2 linked regions of the Homo sapiens genome follow. The protein of the gene in region 2 purifies or fractionates together with the protein of the main gene of each other region. This does not show direct contact. Each region holds a gene or a part of one and is shown on either strand. Other genes may lie near its edges.

Evidence for each region. The genes of interacting proteins can lie anywhere in the genome.
Region 1: the proteins of TMCC2 (region 2) and MARK3 purify together in Homo sapiens (affinity purification with mass spectrometry; 2 studies listed by BioGRID and IntAct, with this or other methods). This does not show direct contact.

The regions. Positions count from the first base shown.
Region 1 is NC_000014.9:103,486,399-103,490,048, reverse strand, and holds part of MARK3 (MAP/microtubule affinity-regulating kinase 3), read right to left. Parts: intron 1-3,650. UniProt on the Homo sapiens protein: Serine/threonine-protein kinase. Involved in the specific phosphorylation of microtubule-associated proteins for MAP2 and MAP4. Phosphorylates the microtubule-associated protein MAPT/TAU. Phosphorylates CDC25C on 'Ser-216'.
Region 2 is NC_000001.11:205,265,887-205,269,536, reverse strand, and holds part of TMCC2 (transmembrane and coiled-coil domains protein 2), read right to left. Parts: intron 588-3,650; coding exon 1-587.

The DNA of each region.
Region 1 (3,650 bases), on a different chromosome or scaffold from region 2:
ACCATGCCCAGCCTTCCAATGTTGTTTTAACAATATAGTCTAGAACCTTCCTAATCAAAGGACATTTACTCCAAGATAAAAAACAGTCAGCAGAGCCCCCTTCTCCAAGATGGGCAAATTCATCAGAGCAAATTAACTGTTAACAGACATGGTAAGATAGAGTGGCTGGAAGTCTGCAGTTTCATCTAACACACACAGTTACCGGACAAAACTACCCCCAGGAGTCTCACTGGGACACATTATTTGGAATTCCAGCTCAGTAATCATGTCCTTGGAATTCAAGGGCAGTTTCTTTCCTTTAAGGATAAGTAGGAATACAGCTCTTCCAGTGTCTTTCTGCAGAAATCCTTTGGAAGGATTAAAACCTGGAAACTGGCAAGTTCTTCCTTTCCCTCACTCCCCATACACAGACTAACGACATCTTATTGGTGTCAACTTCCTAGTAGCTCTTCAGGTGGCCCATCTGCTCCACTTCTACCAGGGCCTCAGTATAGAGCCTCGCTCCTTGTCTTCACTGGGTCCCCTGCCTTTGCCCCAACACCTCCAATCTATTCACCTTACAGCTGAGAACTTCTTAACATATAAACCAGATCTTGTCACTCATCTGCTCATACTTCTACAGAACACCAAGTCTTTGGTAAAAAGTTCAGTCTCCTCGACTTGGAGTGCAAGTACACATCCCCAGGCCCCTGAAGTCTGGCCCCTGCCATCTCTCTAGGCTTTGCCTTCTATCATTCCCTCCTGGAACTCAACTTTCTAGCCTTCCTGATGATGTGTGGTCCATTGGTCAGGCACCAGGTCAGAAAATGTTTGCAGGAGTTATTCTCTTGGTATGGAGGGCTGGGATCTTTCTATTCACTCTTCAAAAATGAACCAGATGTCGTCATCTCTATGAAGTGTTATCTGATCCATTTTCCCTCTGAGAGTTAAATCACTTCTGTTTTTAGCTCATGCATGCCACATTGTATCCTAGTGACCCTTCTCTGCTGGAGGTCCCTGAAAACACAGCCCAAAATCTTGTCAATGTGCCCCCCACCAGTGTAAGCAGAAAGCCTGGCAGGGCAGGTATTCAACAAACGTTCTCCTAACAGAGCAGATTAATCAATTAGCAACTGGAATTCTGATAGCCCCAACATAAAGCAGATACGTCTTTAAAATCAAGAACTGCTTGTCCCTGAATTAAAACATTTTTATTTAAATTTTTATTTTTGGAGACAGGGTCTTGCTGTATTCACCCAGGCTAGAGTGCAGTGGCACTATCACAGCTTGCTGCAGCCTCAACCTCCTGGGGTCAAGCGATCCTCCTATCTCAGCCACAGGAGTGTGCCACTATGCCTGGCTAATTTTTAAATTTTTTGTAGAGATGGTGTCTCACTATGATGGCTAGGCTGGTCTTGAACTCCTGGGTTCAACTGATCCTTCTGCCTCAGCCTCCCAAAGTGCTGGGATTATAGGCCTTGTGAGCCACTGTGCCTGGTTCTGTCCCTGCATTTTTGTTTGAGAATTCTGCTCTCTGACTTGGGAGAATTTATACAGTCTGAGAAGGACTGGAAACAAATGTCTTATAAAGGCAAAAATTTATCCAGTTTCGTATTTCTGCCACTCAGTATCCATTCTTTTCCTGCAGCAACAATAATGAGATTTTGCTGTGGTGGAAGTAACTCTAGGCCCCACACAGATCAAGGAGACCACCTGAGGGCTTCTGCTTGAGCACAGCTGTGTGTGGGAAGAAGTTATGTCTGATGGTGCCGAGCCCAATCATGGAACTACGGCCAAGGAGGCAGAAGCAGATGGACCGTAACTCTAGCCCTGGACTTTTTTTAGTTATATGAACTAACAGCCCTTTTATATTTAAGCCTGTTTAGACTGGGTTTTCTGTCACCTGCAACAGAGACAGTTCTAACTGACTAAGGTTTTTAAAGAAATGCTCGGTTGTTTCTTGTACATGTGTACAGACACACGTACACATGAATGCACACAAATGTTATTTATTTTTTTTTTTTTGAGACGGAGTCTCACTCTGTCGCCCAGGCTGGAGTGCAGTGTGATCTCTGCTCACTGCAAGCTCTGCCTCCTGGGTTCACGCCATTCTCCTGCCTCAGTCTCCCAAGTAGCTGGGACTACAGGCACCCACCACCACGCCCGGCTAATTTTTTGTATTTTTCGTAGAGACGGGATTTCACCATGTTAGCCAGGGTGGTCTTGAACTCCTGACCTCGTGATCCACCCGGCTCAGCCTCCCAAAGTGCTGGGATTACAGGTGTGAGCCACCGCGCCTGGCTACACAAATGTATTTTTCTAACAAGATACAGCTAAATACAACTATCTCTTGTGCCCTTACCTTTCAGGGTGAGTCCAGGGTCAACACACTCTACCTCCAGTTGTTGACTTTTTTCTTGCCCAAATTAGGAGCTAGTATCAGTAGATGTGCCAAGAAAAGCAGGGGAAGAAGATGCAGGAGTTGTTTGACCCTTTCCCTGGTGAATACAAATGGTCCCAAAGTCTTTGGAGAAGGAAAAGGCTTTTAGTCAGCTTGCAGGCAGGAGGGTGCTGCATCGATTCCCAATGAAGCACACTGCTGACAGGCCAAGCTAGATCTTTAAGGCATACAAGCATGGTAAGAGGGTGTGGACAGATGCTTTGCAGAAAAAAAATGGATCCTCTAGAGACCTAAGAAGGAAATGTAAATTTATTTTCTCATTATAAATTAAAAAAAAAAATTTTGTAGAGATAGGGTTTCGTCATGGCCCAGGCTGGTCTGGAACTCCTGAGCTTAGGCAATCCGCCCGTCTTGGCCTCCCAAAGTGCTGGGATTATAAATTATTAACTTGAGGCTGGGCGTGGTGGCCCACGCCTGTAATCCCAGCACTTTGGGAGGCTGAGGCGGGTGGATTGCTTGAGGCCAGGAGTTCCAGACCAGCCTGGCCAACATGGCAAAAACCCATCACTACTAAAAATACAAAAATTAGTTGGGTGTGGTGGCGGGCCCCTGTAATCCTAGCTACTCAGGAGGCTGAGGTATAAGAATCGTTTAAACCCGGGGGTGGTAGCTGCAGTGAGCTGAGATCATGCCACTAAACTCCAGTCTGGGTGACAGAGAGAGACTGTTTCAAATTAAAATAAATAAATAAATAAATAAATAAACTTTTTGACATACTAATTTTAAAGGCAATTAAATAAACTTTTTAGAAATTTAATCCATGTCACATCATGAGTTTCACAAAGCAAGCAACAAAATATTTCCGATTTTTCTGATTTCTACAGTAGGCCTAACACCCAGAAGGAAACAGTAAACTCAGTAAGATGTTTGCAAATTTCAATTTTGTACAATCAAGCTCACAAAAATCCTATTTACAACAGGCAGCCCCAACATCACAATGGTCTACATATATATTCTAAAAGGTCATCAAGCTAATTGTTATGAAATTCGAATAATATTTCCCCCCAGAAAAGTGTTAAAAATGATAGTTTTATTTCCTATTCTAGCCCACAATCTACATAAGCAAAACAGTAGCAGCATTACATTTTTTTAATAATTAAAAAATTTTTTTAAAGTTTTTGTGGGTTCATAGTAGCTGTATTACATTAATTTTTTTATTTTTATTTTTTTGAGACTGGGTCTGGCTCTACCGTCCAGGCTGGAATACAAT
Region 2 (3,650 bases):
AGGTGGGCGATGTTGTCAGCACTGCCAAACTTGTTGCGGATGAGGCTGGCAAACTCCCGGGGCTTGGACACCACGGCGGTGTGGGTGGCCTGTGAGAGGCCAGAGAGGCTGCCCTTGACGCCCTCCACCACGCCGCCCCCAAAGCCGCTGATGCCTGCGCGCACGTTGGCGCCCACGTCCTTCAGCCCCTGCTGCATGTCCCGCAGCACGTCCTTGGGCTGCCGCGAGGGCCCGTTCTGCTCAATCTCCTTCAGGCGCCGGCGGTAGTGCTCCAGCTTCTTGTGCAGCTGGGCGATGGTCTGGGCTGACTTCTGGTTCTTCTTCTCGAACACTTGCTTGATGCGTGACACCTGCTGCTTGTCCGCGTTGTTGGCCAGTTTCAGATACTCTGCCACATTGTCGTCGCGAGCCTCCTGCTCAATCTTGATCTGCTCGGTGATCTTCAGGATCTTCTGGTGCAGGTGGTCAATGGCGGCCTTGGTCCGCTGGGGGTCCGGTGCCCCATCGGGCACGTCCAGGCTGATGGGGCCGTCGGTGTCACCATGGCCGGCGGGGAGGCTCAGGGCCACCAGGTCTCCCTTATCGACCTGGGGAAAGAGGCAGGCAGAGGAAGCATGGGTAAACCCTGGGACCATAGGAGTGCCCCTGGATGCCTCTGGACTTGGTTTTTCTATCTAGAAAATGGATGCAGGAGTCCAAAAGAAGACAACCACCACAAGAGCAGTATCCCTGACAGCCACTTACACAGGGCTTTCACATCTGCTCTCTACCCCGTCCCCACAGCATCCCCAAAATGCAGTCTAGGCAGAGCTGCTCCTCTTTTGGCCCAGAAAGGTCAAACAAGTTGTTCAGGGACACACGGCCAGGAAGGGACAGAACCTCCAGCCCAGAACTCTTTTATTTATTTGTTTGTTTATCTATTTGAGACACAGTCTCGCTCTGTTGCCCAGGCTGGACTGCAGTAGCGTAATCTCAGCTCACTGCACCTTCCACCTCCCTGGTTCAAGGGATTCTCCTGCCTCTGCCTCCCGAGAAGCCAGTATTACAGGCACCCACCACCATGCCTGGCTAATTTTTGTATTTTCAGTAGAGATGGGGTTTCACCGTGTTGGCCAGGCTGGTCTCGAACTCCTGACCTCAAGTGATCTGCCTGCCTTGGCCTCCCAAAGTGCTGGGATTACAGGTGTGAGCCACTACGCCTGGCCCCAGCCCAGAGCTCTTAAAGCTCCAGCACATGGACCAGGCAGGTCTGAGGCCTCACTGGAGTCATGGGGTTGGATTTCTGAGGAATGAGACAAATTTTCTCTCTGGACTCAACCACTTCATAAGGCTCCTGCCTTGAGCAGGCCTCTCCCTCAGGGCTGACCGCCTACACTTTGTGCCCTGCCTGCCTGCCCTCGCCACCCCATGTTCACTAACAACGCAGCTCAGCGGGCCACCCTGCCTCTGCTGACACCTCTCCCAGGCCCTCCATTACCTTACGGCTCTCCAGAGTCATTGGTAACCTTTTCCGCTTCATAATGGTGGAAGCCCCCAGTCCTTCCTAGTATCCGAGAATTGGGAGAGGAGCATGCCCCACCCCCACCCTGCTGGCCAGGTCCCCGAGGACTAAAGCCCCAGAAGTAACTCAAAGGCCAAGGGAAGCAGGGACCAGTTTGGGGGCCTGAGGCTACTAGCCGCCCAGCTTTGCAGAGGGTGAATGCGTAGGAAGGAAATGACAGCCCCCTTCACTCCCCACCAGGCGGGCAGGCTTCCCGAGTGCATCAGGGTGGCACCAAAGTCGGAGAGACAAGGAAAGGAGAAGAGAGACTAAGAAAGGATGATGGGGAGGGAGAGAAAGGAGGAAAAGGTCACAGGAGATAGGAAAGATGGGAAATGTAAGGTGGGCTGAAAGCGGGGAGGCCTGAGACCTGCTCCCCTGGTGCCTGGTTCCTCTCAGCCTGTTGGAGGATCTTTCTGTCCACAGCTGAGTCCCCAGTGTCTTATCGCCATACAACAACGGAAGCAGCAGGAAATGGCTCAACCCCATGTATTTTTACACACAGCACACCCCAAGCAAGGCTGGGTCAGATCATTTGCCCTTAGTATGTATGGGAGGGGGCAGGGGTGTGGTCAGATATATGTGGGGGAAGGGGTTAAACACAAAGATAGTGGCCCAGTCACATGCACCAGAACTGGAAACAGTCCCTGCCAATTACAGGCATAAGTCACTTGGCTTGATTCTGCCAAGGTGCAAAGTTATTGGAAAACACGATTGAAAATAATAGCCCTGCCAAACTCAGGAGCCAGGGGAGGGCGGCTCCTCTGTGGGCTTCCACTGGGGCTTTTCCAGGTTACACTTCCCCCTGGGGATGCTGTGGACAACCACAACCCCATCCCTAATCACTCCTGAAGTCAGGACTTCCCTCTTATGTTTGCTTTGGGTCTCCCCTCATCCCCCCTTGACCTCCCAGCAGGTGCTCATACCTTCAGGACTCTGCTTCTCAGAATTTCTGACCTTTCATACCCACAGTCTCCCTTAAGTGATCTGCTCCAAGGTCTTAACTGTCCCAGTAGCCTGACTTAAAACCCTAACCTGCAATTAGGCTGCTTCTTCCTGCCTTGTTCCCTGCAGTGACAGCAAAAAGCCCATCTCTCCATTTTCCTGACCTTCAGTGTCCTCGCCGACAAAAAGCGGGTAATCACAGCTACTCTCAGGTCTTTTGTGAGAGCTATACAAGATGACGTCTGGCAAGCTGGCATAGTGCGAAGCATACAGAAGGTGCTCATTAAACGCTGAATCTGAATCTAGGCAGCGTAATCCCTTTTTTCCCCTGGGAGAAAAAATGCCTGCAATCAAGCTGGCCTAAATTTATTTCAGAAATTATACCAACAAATTTACTCTGTATTGCTAGAACTACACAAAATTAACGGTTTTTTTTTTTTTATTTGTTTTTTGTTTTTTTTTGGAGACGGGGTCTCTGTCGCCCAGGCTGGAATGCAGTGGGGCCATCTCAGCTCACTGCAACCTATGCCTCCTGGGTTCAAGTGATTCTCCTGCCTCAGCTTCCTGAGTAGCTGGGATTACAGGCATGAGCCGCCACGCCCGGCTAATTTTTTTGTATTTTTAGTAGAAATGGAGTTTCGCCATGTTGGCCAGACTGCTCTTCAACTCCTCATCTCAGGGGATCCACCCGCCTCAGCCTCCCAAAGTGCTGGGATTACAAGCATGAGTCACCGCGCCCGGCCCAAAATTATGTTTTATAGGCAACACATGGCCTTTGATGTTACAGAACTTTTTTTTTTTTTTTTTTTTTGAGACAGAGTCTCGCTCTGTCGCCCAGGCTGCAGTGCAGTGGCGCAATCTTGGCTCACTGCAAGCTCCGCCTCCGGGGTTCACGCCATTCTCCTGCCTCGGCCTCCCGAGTAGCTGGGACTACAGGCGCCTGCCACCATGCCCGGCTAATTTTTTGTATTTTTAGTAGAGATGGGGTTTCACCGTGTTAGCCAGGATGGTCGCGATCTCCTGACCTCATGATCCGCCCGCCTCAGCCTCCCAAAGTGCTGGGATTACAGGCTTGAGCCACCACGCCCAGCCCAGAACCTGTCTCTCTTATAAAGCTGCTGCCCTTTCCACAGATGCCCAGCTCTCTTTCACTGTCTTCTTGGGA